Linked DNA regions of Homo sapiens. The main gene of each other region encodes a partner of the protein of the gene in region 2 in a complex. Each region holds a gene or a part of one and is shown on either strand. Other genes may lie near its edges.

Region 1 (3,500 bases), on a different chromosome or scaffold from region 2:
AGTTACAGATTTCATTCTCATTTTATTTCATTCTCTTTTTTATTTCATTCTCATTTTATATATTTTGACTTTCAGAAGATAAAACAGTTTAAGAACTTGAGAGGTTTAACCATCAAAACCAATGTTAGTTGATATTTCTTCAGAAACTTGAATACCATGTGAGTTACTCTGTTATGCTAGACCCATGTCTTCTTTTATTCAATACTAAGCTTTCATAAAACTCTCCCTGATTATTTCCTTCAAGTTCTGGTTTTAATTAGTATAGTCACATTTGTATCTACCTTACTGGGAGAATTAAACAATAAATCCATATGATACACATTAAACAATACATGTGAGACACACAGAACACTGGTAACTAGTATGTACTCATTAGGTGTTACATGTAACTACTAGTTAAATTTTTAGTATATTTATGGGACTGATTTGAATCTGAAAAATGGCAAATTATATTTACTTGTGTATAATAGTATAGAATGTTATGGTTTAGTGGTCTGGCTCAGGAGCTAGCCTTTTGTGGTTCATCTCCTGGCTCTGCCACTTACTACCCATGTGATCATAAGACACACCATTCTGTGCCTCAGTTTCTTCTTTGAAATGGGGCTAATTATAGTACTAAATCAAAGGGTAGAGATGAGTTGAGAAAATGTGTACAGTGTGTTTAGCACACTGCCTAGTGCTGGCATATAGCATATAGTGATACTATTACATTGCTGTAGTTGGTATGTATGGTTCTTCCTTATTTATGTATATTTGGCTATCATTTTCCCTTAAATATCCTTTGTCTTAGTTTATACCTTTAGCTGCTGGTCTACATAAGCTTTTATGCTACTTACTTGGAGATAGTCACATTAGTACATAGGTGTCCTTTGCAACTGCTGTCAACTCTACATATGAGTGAGATGTGTGGTGCAGGTCCCCCCACCCCAGCCAAATAACCAAGAGGTAAATTGTGTACCCTCGAATACTGTTGGTTATAAAAAAGGCATTTTATTTGCCGTCGTATAGGTACTTGTATTGGAATACCTGGCAACTAAAATGACTGTGAGGTTAAATTTACACTTTCAGGTAAACCAGAATATTTCTCTTTTTCTCCTGAATATTTTCTTTACAGGGAACACTGAAAGGTTTTGACCAGACCATTAATTTGATTTTGGATGAAAGCCATGAACGAGTATTCAGCTCTTCACAGGGGGTAGAACAAGTGGTACTAGGATTATACATTGTAAGAGGTGACAACGTGTAAGTAAAATATATCTGTTAAAATTATAAATGATACTGCCTTACTTTATGGAGAAGAGGCTTTCCCCAAAATACCCTACTGTATTGTCCATACATAGTTAATAGAATCTTGCATTCATTTCTTTCGTAAATATACCTTTTCTTATGTTTGTGTAAAATAAGGCATATGTATACATTTTATGTCAGCACTTCTTTAGGTTTCAACCAAAGCTGTCTCTCTACAAATTAAACTTTTACCTGAGATTTGCCCATTTTTCTACTAGTTAAGTAGCCTGGGTAGAGTCCAGAAAGGGCTCTGCCTTATATTAAATACTTCATTAGAGAGACTTCTTAAAACGTTCTTTCAAATACCCAGAATTTTAGAGGAACATATTTCTAGAGTCCAAGGCCAAAGTTTGAAAAATGTTTTGAAATCTCTGATTTGAACAATATTAATTCATGCTCAATAACATAGGTGTATTTATAAATAAGTACTTACTCGTTATTCATTTTCTTTTAATTTTTTAGTATCATTGACACACTTAAGATGTCCCTGTGGCCTCAGTTTACTTGGGACAGACAGATATAAAAGTTCAAGAGTAATTGGCCAGGCATGGTGCCTGTAATCCCAGCACTTTGGGAGTCTGAGGCAAGTGGATCAGGTCAGGAGTTCAAGACCGGCCTCGCCAACATGGCAAAACACTGTCTCTACTAAAAATACAAAAATTAGCCAGGCTTGGTGGCGTGCGCCTGTAGTTCCAGCTACTTGGGAGGCTGAGGTGGGAGAATCACTTGAACCCAGGAGGTAGAGGTTGCAGTGAGCCGAGATCACCCTACTGCACTCCAGCCTGGGTGACAGATTGAGACACCAATTCAAAAAAAAAAAGGCCGGGCACAGTGGTTCAAGCATGTAATCCCAGCACTTTGGGAGGTGGAGGCGGGTGGATCACTTGAGGTCAGGAGTTCGAGACCAACTTGGCCAATGTGGTGAAACCGCGTCTTTACTAAAAATATAAAAATTAGCCAGGCGTGGTGGCGCAAGCCTGTAATCCCAGCTACTCGGGAGGCTGAGTCAGGAGAATTCGCCTGGGAGGTGGAAGTTGCAGTGAGCCGAGATCGCAGCACTGCATTCCAGCCTGGGCAACAAGAGCAAAACTCCGTGTCAAAAAATAAAAAAGAAAAGTGGCTAATGTGGTTCACGTGCCGTGGCTCATGCCTATAATCTCAGCACTTTGAGAGGCCAAGGTGGGTGGATCACCTGAGCCCAGGAGTTCAAGACCAGCCTGGCCAGCATAGTGAAACCCCGTCTCTCCTTAAAATAGAAAAATTAGCCTGGTGTGGTGGTGCATGCCTGTAATCCCAGCTACTTGGGAGGCTGAGGCAGAAGAATTTCTTGAACCTGGTAGATGGAGGTTGCAGTGAGCCAAGGTTGCGCCTTTGCACTCCAGCCTGGGCAAAAAGAGTGAAACTCCATCTTGAAAAAAAAAAGAAAAGTGGCTGATGTGACAGAGGAACTGAATTTTAAATTTTATTTAATTGTAATTAATTTTAATAGTTACATGTGGCCAGTATTAGTATAGTTATAGAGGCTAGAAGAATGCCAAATCAGTTTTCTAGTGAGTACTACACTGAATCAAAATATAGTTGGAAAGAAGCAAAAGATACATTAGCAATTTTAAGCTAGAACATTTAACAAATTCTAGGGGACTAACTGTCCCCTGGAATAACTTAAAAAGTGCAGGAATAATTTACTCATTTAAGTTGTTTATGTTAGCATCACCTTTAGATGAATAAATAATTTGATCTGTAATCAAAAATCAAGAGTTTATAAAATATTTTAGAGATGACTTTTAGGTGGAGTTACAAGGTGAGCTGTAAGTAATGAGAGAGAGACAGAGCAGATAGGGCCCAGGTCTCTGGATCAGAACAACACTGTTTATATTGGAGCTGTGCATAGTAATTGATTTTAAGGTTTCTCCTACTTAAAACAATTTTTTTTTCTTGAACTTCAGTGAAAAAAGTCTTGTGCTAGAGCCAGCTTCTACTGGCCCATGAAAGCATATTGTTATATTTTAAGGAATTTTACAAGCTGGTTAATTGATGTCTTGTTAGTAGCTTGAAATTGGCCGTGGTGGGAGTGTTTGCACAATGGATATTAGTAAATGCAGCAAATCAGTCTCCCGCTTTTTTTCCAGAGAGCTGGTTTTTAAAAATGTATCAGCATTTCCCTGCTTACCATAGGGATTTTAAATGATACTGAATATTATCATTTAAAATTT
Region 2 (3,500 bases):
ACAGAGCGAGACTCCATCTCCAAAAAAAAAAAAAAAAGGAGATATGAGTCCTGAGTCCATGTGAGCTCTAGTCAGCCAACCTGCCTTCCTGCTACTAAAGGCTGACTTCTCATTTTATTTTCTCTTCAGCCTGAACAAAAGCTGACTAGACTTGTCTGAATGAGTATCAGTGAAGAAGTCTTTTTTTTTTTTGAGACAGAGTCTCGCTCTGTCGCCCAGACTGGAGTGCAATGGCGCTAGCTATCTCAATTCACTGCAAGCTCTGCTTCCTGGGTTCACGCCATTCTCCTGTCTCAGCCTCCCGAGTAGCTGGGACTACAGGCGCCCACCACCATGCCTGGCTAATTTTTTGAATTTTTAGTAGAGACGGGGTTTCACCGTGTTAGCCAGGATGGTCTCGATCTCCTGACCTCGTGATCCGCCCGCCTTGGCCTCCCAAAGGGCTGGGATTACAGGTGTGAGCCACCGTGCCTGGTTTGGAGAAGTCTTTATACTCAAGATTTCATGACTGAACCAAAACTGTCCATGCGGCAAAAGAGAAATACTACGTTTAATCATTTTGTGTTAGTAAATAGGAAAAGGAGCAAACTATTCATTTTTTTTTTTTTTTTAGTAGAGACAAGGTCTTGCTATGTTGTCCAGGCAGGTCTCAAACTCCTGAGCTCAAGCAATTCTCCCACCTCGGCCTCCCAAAGTGATGACATTACAGATGTGAGCCACTGCGCCCAGCCTAAAAGAGCAAACTATACTCATCTCCCAACCACAGCAACAGACCAGTTAAGAGAATGGCTAATTACCTGAAAGTGAAACTTTAAACCTGCCCTCAAAAATCTCTATCTCCAAATAAGCAGAGGGTGCCTAATCACCATAAGTCTGATAACTCTCCGACAAAAACAGGATGTGTTATGAATAAAACATAGGAGAAGACAGGTATGAAAAAGATCCTTTTCAAGAAGTATGGACAATGAAATGATCCAGAATTGTATTACTCGAAGTAATTACAGCACATAAAATAATTAAAGTGCAAGTTTCCAGAATTAGTCACAATTTGATGTTCTCTAAAAGACTGCGTAGTTAAGAAACAATCTTTTTCTCAACTTCTCCGAAGTAAGCTTTCTGAAGGACAAACTTTTATATTGGGCCTACTCTAGGCCCATAAAAGAAACCAATGGGGCAAGGAAATTTCTGTGGCAACTGAGCAGGAAGTACCATTGATACACAATCTTCCTCCCTCTGGAGTTGCCCTTGGAATCCAGACTGCCCCTACCTACCAGGAACAGACAGGTGACTGGCAATTCACAAGAGGCTAGTGCTGAAATAAAACTTTGACACACAGACTTTCGAAGAAAGCACCTCTGTCATCCTACTCAAGGAGGCAGAGAACAAACCTCCATGTCCCCCCATTTAATTCTAGTCACAAACAAGATGCTAGTGGAGAAAAGTGTAGAAAAAGAGAAAAAGAAATTCCCCTGTAATTCTCAACTGCAAATGTTCTCTCTCCTCACCCTCCATGATTCTAAGAGTCCTGGCAATACTATAATAAGATGTTACACCTGGACAAACCCCTAGGGCTCAGGCCCATCTACTCCAAGCCTCTCATTTTATCTATGAGAGAACATATCCAGAAAACACGCAAACTATGGGTCTGAGGTCCCACCACTAAGACAGCCTAAAACTCAGGCCTCTTAATTTTAGATACTACTTTCTTAAACACTACATGGAATTTAAAACTGACACTATTTTCTTTCTTTCTTTCTTTTTTTTTTTTTTTTTTTTTTAGCACAGTCACACTCTGTCACCCAGACCCAGGCTGGAGGGCAGTGACACCATCTCAGCTCACTGCAGCCTCAATCTCCAAGGTTCTAGCCATCCTCCTGCCTCAGCCCCTCAAGTACCTAGGACTGCAGGTGTGCACCACCACATCTGGCTAATTTTTTGTATTTTTTTGTAGAGATGGGGTTTTGCCATGTTGCCTAGGCTGGTCTTGAACTCCTGAGCTCAAGCGATCCAGCTGCCTTGGCCTCCCAAAGTGCTGGGATTACAGGCGTGAGCCACCACGCCCAGCCAAACATCTTCTTAAGTATGAAAAACCTTGTCTCTTGAGAACTGAAAACCAACAGTCTACCCCCAAAAAGGATCTTGCAGAAGTTTTCTGAGTTGGAAGGAAGCAAACTAAAAGCATCTAGTACAACTCTAGTGTGCAAAAAGGTGTGATGGCCAGCAAATAGATGGGCAGACCCTCACTACTCAGGACATCTTCCAAACCAGGCAGAATCCTACCTGTCTTATCCTACTTGCATCATTTCTTCTTCTCTACGCAGGAAGACTATAATTTCCAGCTAGCAACAGGAGAGAAGATAAAATAGGGATTGCATCCCAATAAACATCAATCTTTTGTGGTCCCTGAAATAAGTGTATCCTTCCAATAAAAACTCTTATCTACTGTAGGTAGGCTCTGTTCCTTGTAATCCCCAACTAAGACAGTCCAAAATTAATACTGGTAAAAATACAAGAGAAGAAATCCAGGTTCACTCCCCGTGAGAGAAGTGAGGCAGGATGTTACTTACGTAATAGGGAAATTGACAATAGTTGGATTCTTCTCAACAAAGAAGTTGTTCTTAGTGAATCTCTTGATACAAAAGATTAGATATGGAGGCAACTTGGTAAGCTGGAAGCGCTTCAGAAAGTTCTCCTTGTAAGTCTTATATTCCTAGAGAAAGAAAAGAAAATTCTCAAATTAGTGCTGAAGTTCAGTAGTATTAGAGCAGGGGCATGAGTTTTTCATTTCGATTTTTTAAAATATAATTTTGCCTCACACTTAAGTTCACAAGACTCCTGGTCCGAGAAATTATGTATGAGGCTTAGGATGTGCAGTTTGGCTAAGGCTGATTTAAAAAAAAAAAAAAAAAAAAAGGCCGGGCCTGGTGGCTCACACCTATAATCCTATCACTGTAGGAGGCCGAGGCAGGGGGATCATTTCAGCACAGGAGTTCGAGACCAGCCTTGACAACATGGTGAAACCCCATCTCTACTAAAAAGGAAAAAGAAAAAAAAAGAAAAAAAAAATATATATATATATATGTAAAGAAAGAAAACTAACCAGGCACGGTGGCTCATGCCTGTAATCCCAACACTTTGAGAGGCTGAGGCAGGCAGATCACTTGAGGCCAGGAGATCGAGACCAGCCTGGCCAACAGGGTGAAACCGCATCTCTACTAAAAATACAAACATTAGCTGGGCATGGTGGCATGTACCTGTAGTCCCAGCTACTCGGGAGGCTGAGGCAGAAGAATCGCTTGAACCCGGGAGGTGGAGGTTGCAGTGAGCTGAGATCACACCACTGCACTCCAGCCTAGGCAACAGAGTGAGACTCCATCTCAAAAAAAAAAAAAAAGTATGTCTCCCCACTTTTTGGAGTTTCTCCTCTCCTAAATGACCTTCCTTTCTCTATACTACCCCAGAGGCAGGCAGAAAGCTGAAAACAGGATATATGAGAAGTA
Region 3 (3,500 bases), on a different chromosome or scaffold from region 2:
AGCTACTCGGGAGGCTGAGGCAGGAGAATTGCTTGAACTCAGGAGGCGGAGGTTGCAGTGAGCCAAGATCGTGCCATTGCACACCAGCCCAAGAGACAAGAGTAAGACTCTGTCTCAAAAAAAAGAAAGTCAGTAAAGTCAAGGTCTCACCGTGTTGAAACGATAATAGATGAGATGCTTCAGGTCCTTGCACATGCGAATCTGTCGCATCAGCTTGTATTTGTATCGATACATGCCCGTCAACTGCCCAACATGGGCAAATATATACTGCAATCCATCTGCCAGCTGCAATACAATTGCCCCATCAGACCTGGAGCTTAAACCAGCTCCACGGTCAGCACAGGCTTCCTCCAGCGTCCTCACCCAGGCAGGGGTTGGGAATACCTAACCTTACCTGGAAGGCATCCACATTGCCCAGCCGATACTGCACGTGACTATCCACCACCAGCTTAGTCAAACGCAGAACTTCCCGACACAGGTGGAAAGCATTCCCAAAACGAGATTTCTTTCTTTCCTGGAGAAGATGCAAAAAACAGACAGAACGTGAATGAGCAATGGACCCAACTGATGTATGCCTTCATCAGTAACCAGAGGAAAACAACTGTCCGTCCTTGAAGCCCAGGAGGCCCCTAGGGTCCAATGCAGGCACCTTGGTGGTGAGCGTTTTCACAGGCTTGAGGTTGAAGTTGTAGTCCAGGTGCAGGTAGTTGAGGTTTTTGCGGTGAATGAGAAGGTTGAGCATGTTGTAGCCCTGGCGGCAAACCTGGAGCCCAACCTCCACCCAGTCCAGCTTTGTGGACTGAAAGAATTTGGTGGCTTTGAAGGAGCGGAACAAATACCTGAGGTGGGAACATGGAGAGTAAGAGTCAGCCTACTGATATCTCTGGAACAGAAGTCTGCGCAGGGCCCCTGGGGCACCTTACCTCTTCTTTTGAGCCTTAGGGGGCCGATGCTTCAGGGCATTCAGCACATAGTACTTAAGCAGCTTCTGGTAGGAGACCCTCACTTTCACAGGCTGCCCGGCAGGACAATGCTCCCGATACCTGGAAAAATAAGCCCACCAGAGTTTGGCCATCTCTTCTTCCAGACACTCTGCTAAAGGCTGCAAGCCTTGGGTTGTCTACCATTTTTATGGGAAAAAAAAAAAAAGAATTTAAAAAAAAGGCTACATGCCCACCTAGTTGGAGTCTTTTCTCCTACACATCCACTATCATTCCCCCTGCCACAGGGAAAAACCTTACCAGTTCTTGACAAGGGGTATGTCCAGGGCCCGACGGGTGCGACCAGAGCGTAGGTTGAAGGGCCGCGGGGCCCAGAGCAGGGCAATGCCATTGGCTGTATTGTCTGTATAGAGGGGTGTGTCCTTCAGGAAGGGCTCCACAAACTCCGGGAGCTCAAATTCCTCATCATCATCCGGCAATGGTTCCTGGCTCTGAAAAAGGAATCCCTCTAAGGGTTTAGCTCCTGCTGAACTAGGCACAGACTTAAGATGAGGGAAATTCTCTGGGGCCAAGCACAAAGCCTGTATCTGCTATGGAAACTGGGCTGTCTGACAAAAGCAGCCCTGAAGTGCCAGCACAAAGGAAACCAAGACAGCAAAGAACAAGACAGGGCCACCAGGAAAGCAAGCGTCACTTCTCACACCTCAACTGGCTGACCACCAGAAAGCCTCCCAATGGAGCCCCAACATCACAGGAGGTCAACATTGCAATCATCTCCCACCCAAGCTCCAAACACTGGGCTTGGACACAACGGAACACAGATGAGCATCAAAAACATTATGGTAAGCTTAAGAAGCCAGTCACTGAAGACTACATAGTGTACGATTCTATTTCATTCTATCATATGAAATGTGTAGAATAGCCAAATCTATAGACAGAAAGTAGATTAGTGGTTGCGTAAGGAAGTTGGGGAGAAATGGCGAGTAACTGCTAAGGGTTTCTTTCTCAAGTAATAAAAATATTCTCAAATTGCATGTCGTGACAGTTGGGACAACTCTGAGAATAAGCTAAAAACCATCAAATTACACACTTTAAATGGATAACTTGTATGGTATGTTAACTACATCTCAATATAAAGGCTAAAACAAACAAACACAATAGAGACAGACCGGGACAGATTATCTAGAGCACCCAAGAAAAGAACCGTAAAGTCCAAAAGGATAATCACAGAAAACAGGATTATACCAATGACATGTTTTAAAGCAAATGCTGAATTCTCATATTCGCTTATAGCTCAAGGGGAACACTTAGCAAGACGGAAAACACATCTCCCTCCACCTGAGCGTTTAGTAACATCAGCCAACCTCACGCATTTCTCCTAGAAGAGCTGAGGGAAAGCATCCCTTCCCTTCCTCACCTTGACTGAGTGCCTATGGGAGATTGGGTTGATCAAAGGGTCAAAGTAGAAAGCTGGCAAGTCAGGATCCTCAGTTTTGATGAATACAACATTGGGAGTATGGTACCTAAAATGAAAGGAAGAGTCAGCCAAAGTTTTCCCGCCCTGGCCCAACCTAAACAGCAGCCTTCTCCTTTCCAAATGTTGTGTTCCAGGTCTCTTACCAGGTGAGGTGGACATGGTGTGGAAGATTGTTGTACAAGTAAGGAAAAGCAATCTTGTACTCAGTGCGGATAGGCTGCCGGATGATAATCTTGTTAATATCATTGAATTCATTCCAGTCTTCATCCCTAGGGTACAACATCAAGAATAAGCAGACTTTTTTTTTTTTGAGACAGGGTCTCACTCTTATCACCCAAGCTGGAATGCAATGGCATGATCATCGTTCACTGCAGCCGTGACCTCCTGGGCTCAAACAATCCTCCCACAGCTCAGCTTCCCAAGTAACTGAGACTACACGAAGCTGTGAGTGTCACCACGCCCAGCTACATTTTTTGGTAAAGATAGGGTTTTGCCATTTTGCCCAGATTGGTCTCAAACTTCTGGGCTCAAGCAATCCTCCTGCCTCAGCTTCCCAAAGTGCTGAGATTACAGCGTGAGCCACTGCACCTGGTGTAAACAGACTAATTTGGAAGTTATATCAGGACTTTAAGGATCAAGATTACGTTTCATTCAACTCAAAATGTCTAAAATCCCTAATCTCTCCAACTCACTGTAGGTTGATGTCTCGAACAAGAGGTTCAAATTTGGGGCCTCCAGGAATGGCCATATTGAGTGCCTTGGACGTAAAGAAGGCCTTCAAATCAAACAGGTAGAAGTAGTTGTCATCCACCAAGTCTGTCAGGAGCTGATTAGCCAGGCGGTAGAGAGTCGACATCATAGGTAGTGTGAACTGCCAGCGCTGGTAAGTGGAGCCATTTACATACCTAGGTAAAAAATGAAAGGCCCACCTCAAGTAAGCAGCTAGACAAACCCATACCACCTACTGATCTCCCAGGACTCCTTCTGCATTTCCAGAACTCCTCCCAGGTGTAGTATCTCCATCTATCACTCACTTCCTGCTGTCCCTCAACGGCTGGTGGTCATAGAACCAGTCCAACACA
Region 4 (3,500 bases), on a different chromosome or scaffold from region 2:
AGGCTCCGAGGCAGCGCTGCAAGGGCAACCCCAAGAAGGAGGGATGCCACGTGTGGCTGTCTTCCCGCCCCAGGTACGTCCACTGGAGAGGGGAGACCCACCTCGGCCAGCGCCGCCCATGCCGCGGCCTTTCTGCTGCTTCTGCTGCTGCAGGCCTCCGCGGCCGCGGCCCTTGGCCACCACCTCCTCCTTGACCATGTCGATGATCTCGTCGGGGATGCGCAGGTACTTGATGGTGCTGCCGCGGATGTAGCACTCGGGCATCCGCCAGAACTTGTCCCCGTCCTGCGGAGAAGGGGAGCAGGTTATTAACTTACCACCGGGCCGTCTGGCCCAGCCCTGGGAGCGCGGGAGGCCCTGCAGATCCTGCCCAGCCTGCACCCCGTACCACCCCTGCAAGCTGCACAGTATCAGTCCCGGGACATACGTGGCAAAGGGTCCACCCTGCAGGCAGGATCTGTCCTGACCCCAGGCAATCCTTCACCCAGGAGCAAGGGTGGGTGTGGTAGGCGCAGCCCCCATTGTGCACTCACAAGGAAGACTGGCTCCTATCCTCTGCCCGTGGGCCTGGCTCAGGAGTGGCTGACTGGGGCTCCCTCCAGCCTGGGATGGGGCTCTCTCTGGTTGGGGTTCTTCACCTGCAGCCCAAAGCCCAGAGCGGGTGGGGGCCTCCCTGTGCACCAGACACAGCCGAAGCCCAGCTACTCCTCCTCCTGCCCCAGCCCCACCTCACTTCTGGAAGCCTCTCTACATGCCCTGACTCATTCATTCATCTAAGTATCTCCTGACAGGGCCTGCGCTGGGTGCAGGGACATGCGAGCAAGCTACAGGCCTAGTGTGGTGGGTGAAGAGGGGCGGGAAATGGGGGGACTTGGGTCCTGCCAGGGTGGCTCAAGGGCGGCTCCCAGCGATGCCAGTTTTAGGAGAGCTAACCAAGACTGGAGAAATGGGGGCCTTGCAAAGACACAGACTCATGCTGCAATGCCTCCGAGGCCCCCACTGGGACAGATCGAGGGATTAGCAGGGGCCAGGGCCATTCCTACCATATCAGTTTCCCAGCCCCGCCCCACCGCCCAGGTTCCTGGACAGACCCACGCACGACGCCTGGATGGCCTTTGCCCCCGATGCCCTTTAAAGTCAGATCACAGTATGTTCCAGCTTGGAACCCACCCAGGGCCCCCTCCAGCCTGGGGGCAAGGTCTAAGAACCTCAGCAGGGCTCTCTAGGGCCCGAGATCCTGCCCCGCCCTGGCGGTCCTCTCCCAGCCCGACGACACTCCCTCCAGATGGAACTTTCTGTTTCCGGAACACACGCCATGGGCTTGCCCCCAGAACTTTGCACGTGGTTTTCCCACTTCTCATCTGGCTAACTTTGACCCCAAAAGGCCTTACCTGCCCGAATCCCCAAGTCCTCCTGTCAGACACTCTCCTCCACACCTGGGTAGGTGTGGCCTGGCCTAGCGCTGGGCGGGGAGGAACAGCCCCTTTGGGTGCTCACTCTCCCAGGAACCCCTCGAGGGCTCGTGGGGCGGACACACCATGGTTCTGTGGGGACTCAGGGCCTGGGCAGGTGACTTGGCGCCCAGCTCTCCCAGGCAGGGCCCAGAGGCTTCCTCGTGCAGGAACCTGGGCAGGGCCTGAGCTCACTGCAGGGAGGCCCCTGCCTCCTGCCCACAGCGCTCCAGAGGTCTCTCAGCCCGGGGTCTCTGCATCCTGCGGCCTGCCTCTGAGGGAGGGAGGGCCCCACTTAGATGGGGACGATGTGAGTTCCCATCGCCTCTCCTCCCAGCCACATGTGACGGCAGCATCACCGCCTGGCCACAGAGGCAGGCTGCTCAGGGAAAGCCATCCGTCCACTCGAAGCTGGAGGCAGAGGCCAAACCAACCCCTGGAGACCACGCAGCCTCTGAATCAACAGGCTTCTCATGTCTAGGACCTGGAGGTGTCCACAAGACCGCACATGCTCACGCACGCAACACGCCTGGTGATTCCAATACCGGAAGTGGACAGAGCCCCGCTGGCCGCAGATGGGAGGCACGCGGTTCTGCACCAAGGCACCATCCGACACAGCCAGACTGGACCCACCCAGACGCCCTCCGACAGGCTATGGCACGAAACCCAGCAAGCAGTTTCTAGAGCTTCTAGCGCTGCTGCACAGCAGCCTCACCACCTGTCCCCACCCCGCCCAGCCCTGTGCTGATGAGAGGCCCAGTCCCGGGTGGGGGTGGCGGTCAGGGCAAGATACGGCCACTTCAGGAAGAAGCGCCTCCCCCCTCGAGCCCTGTTGTCCTGTCAAGGTGACCCCAGGCAGGCACTCCAAGCTCCCCAGCAGTTTCCTCCCTATACCATGGGGGGCTGTCACCCACAGGGAGACAAGACAGATGGGGTCAGGGAAGGTTGGTGGGAGGAGTCCAAGGGAGCCGCTGCCTTCAGCACCATCCCTGGCCTCCTCCTCAGTGCTCTGTGGGTCATCCCAGGGGCAGGGAAGGCCCGTGACACCAGGGGAACCATCTTCCAGCCCCGGCCGACCCAGCAGCACTCCTAGCCAGGCACTTCCGGTCTTGGGCTCTGGCTGGTGGCTCCTGACCCACCGGGCCCTGGCGCTGCTCCTGCCCACCGTGACCTGGGCATCCCGGACATCCCAGGGCCACACTACCATGGCCCGCAGAGTGCAGGCAACATCCAGGCTGGACTAAAGGCAGCAGAGTCCGGGAGTCTTGGGCCTCCCCTGGAGGGGGCTGCCCCAGCCTGAGCCACAGGGAGTCCCCAGTCCTAGGTCCTTCCAGGTCAGGGGTGGCACCAACAGACACACAGCAGGAAAGTCTCCCACAGGGTCAAAGTCCAGGGCACACTGGGAGACTTGGTGGCCTAGCTCACCCTGCCCTGTCCCTCCTGACTGACCCCTGGAAGGACGAGCAGTCCTAGGCGGCCTCCCCCACTGACTCCTCCCATGAGGCCCAGGGAGGGAGGGAGGAGGCTGAGTGTGCACCCCCTGCATCCCACCCCCGTTGGTGGGTGCAGCACCCACCCTGGACGTGCAGATGACTTCTCGCAGGTTAATGTTCATCCAGTTGTCGCAGCTCACCAGGTGTCCATTGTACGTCTCCCCATTTTTCAGCTCCACCAACTAGAAGAGAGACAGGCTAGAGGTTGGCTGTAGCCCTGGAGCCCTGCGCCATGGGCCCCTCAGGAGGTGTAGCTCTGCCCTGAGATGGACCACCACCTCCGGGCCTCAGCCCACAGTTCCCAGACCCCTAAATGGCCTTCCTTACAGGCGACAGGCTCTGCCTCCGCTAGACACTTCGCTGGCAGTTAGACAGTCTATCATGACGCCAACCTTTGTGCAATTAAAAAATGATACTGGGCCGGGCGCGGTGGCTCACGCCTGTAATCCCAGCACTTTGGGAGGCCGAGGCAGGCAGATCACGAGGTCAAAAGATTGAGACCATCCTGACCAACATGGTGAAACCCCATCTCTACTAAAATCATAAAAATTAGCTG

The links. Proteins that work in one complex are often made in the same cells at the same time.
Region 1: USP39 (region 2) and LSM8 share a complex: the UniProt entries of both Homo sapiens proteins name them as parts of the U4/U6-U5 tri-snRNP complex.
Region 3: USP39 (region 2) and PRPF8 share a complex: the UniProt entries of both Homo sapiens proteins name them as parts of the U4/U6-U5 tri-snRNP complex.
Region 4: USP39 (region 2) and LSM4 share a complex: the UniProt entries of both Homo sapiens proteins name them as parts of the U4/U6-U5 tri-snRNP complex.

What each region holds. Positions count from the first base shown.
Region 1 is NC_000007.14:118,187,164-118,190,663, forward strand, and holds part of LSM8 (LSM8 homolog, U6 small nuclear RNA associated), read left to right. Parts: intron 1-1,114; coding exon 1,115-1,242; intron 1,243-3,500. UniProt on the Homo sapiens protein: Plays a role in pre-mRNA splicing as component of the U4/U6-U5 tri-snRNP complex that is involved in spliceosome assembly, and as component of the precatalytic spliceosome (spliceosome B complex).
Region 2 is NC_000002.12:85,640,186-85,643,685, reverse strand, and holds part of USP39 (ubiquitin carboxyl-terminal hydrolase 39), read right to left. Parts: intron 2,711-3,500; coding exon 2,568-2,710; intron 1-2,567.
Region 3 is NC_000017.11:1,678,368-1,681,867, forward strand, and holds part of PRPF8 (pre-mRNA-processing-splicing factor 8), read right to left. Parts: coding exon 3,453-3,500; intron 3,324-3,452; coding exon 3,111-3,323; intron 2,688-3,110; coding exon 2,562-2,687; intron 2,465-2,561; coding exon 2,359-2,464; intron 1,433-2,358; coding exon 1,242-1,432; intron 1,044-1,241; coding exon 924-1,043; intron 840-923; coding exon 650-839; intron 515-649; coding exon 395-514; intron 286-394; coding exon 151-285; intron 1-150. UniProt on the Homo sapiens protein: Plays a role in pre-mRNA splicing as core component of precatalytic, catalytic and postcatalytic spliceosomal complexes, both of the predominant U2-type spliceosome and the minor U12-type spliceosome.
Region 4 is NC_000019.10:18,309,577-18,313,076, forward strand, and holds part of LSM4 (U6 snRNA-associated Sm-like protein LSm4), read right to left. Parts: intron 3,127-3,500; coding exon 3,028-3,126; intron 286-3,027; coding exon 102-285; intron 1-101. UniProt on the Homo sapiens protein: Plays a role in pre-mRNA splicing as component of the U4/U6-U5 tri-snRNP complex that is involved in spliceosome assembly, and as component of the precatalytic spliceosome (spliceosome B complex).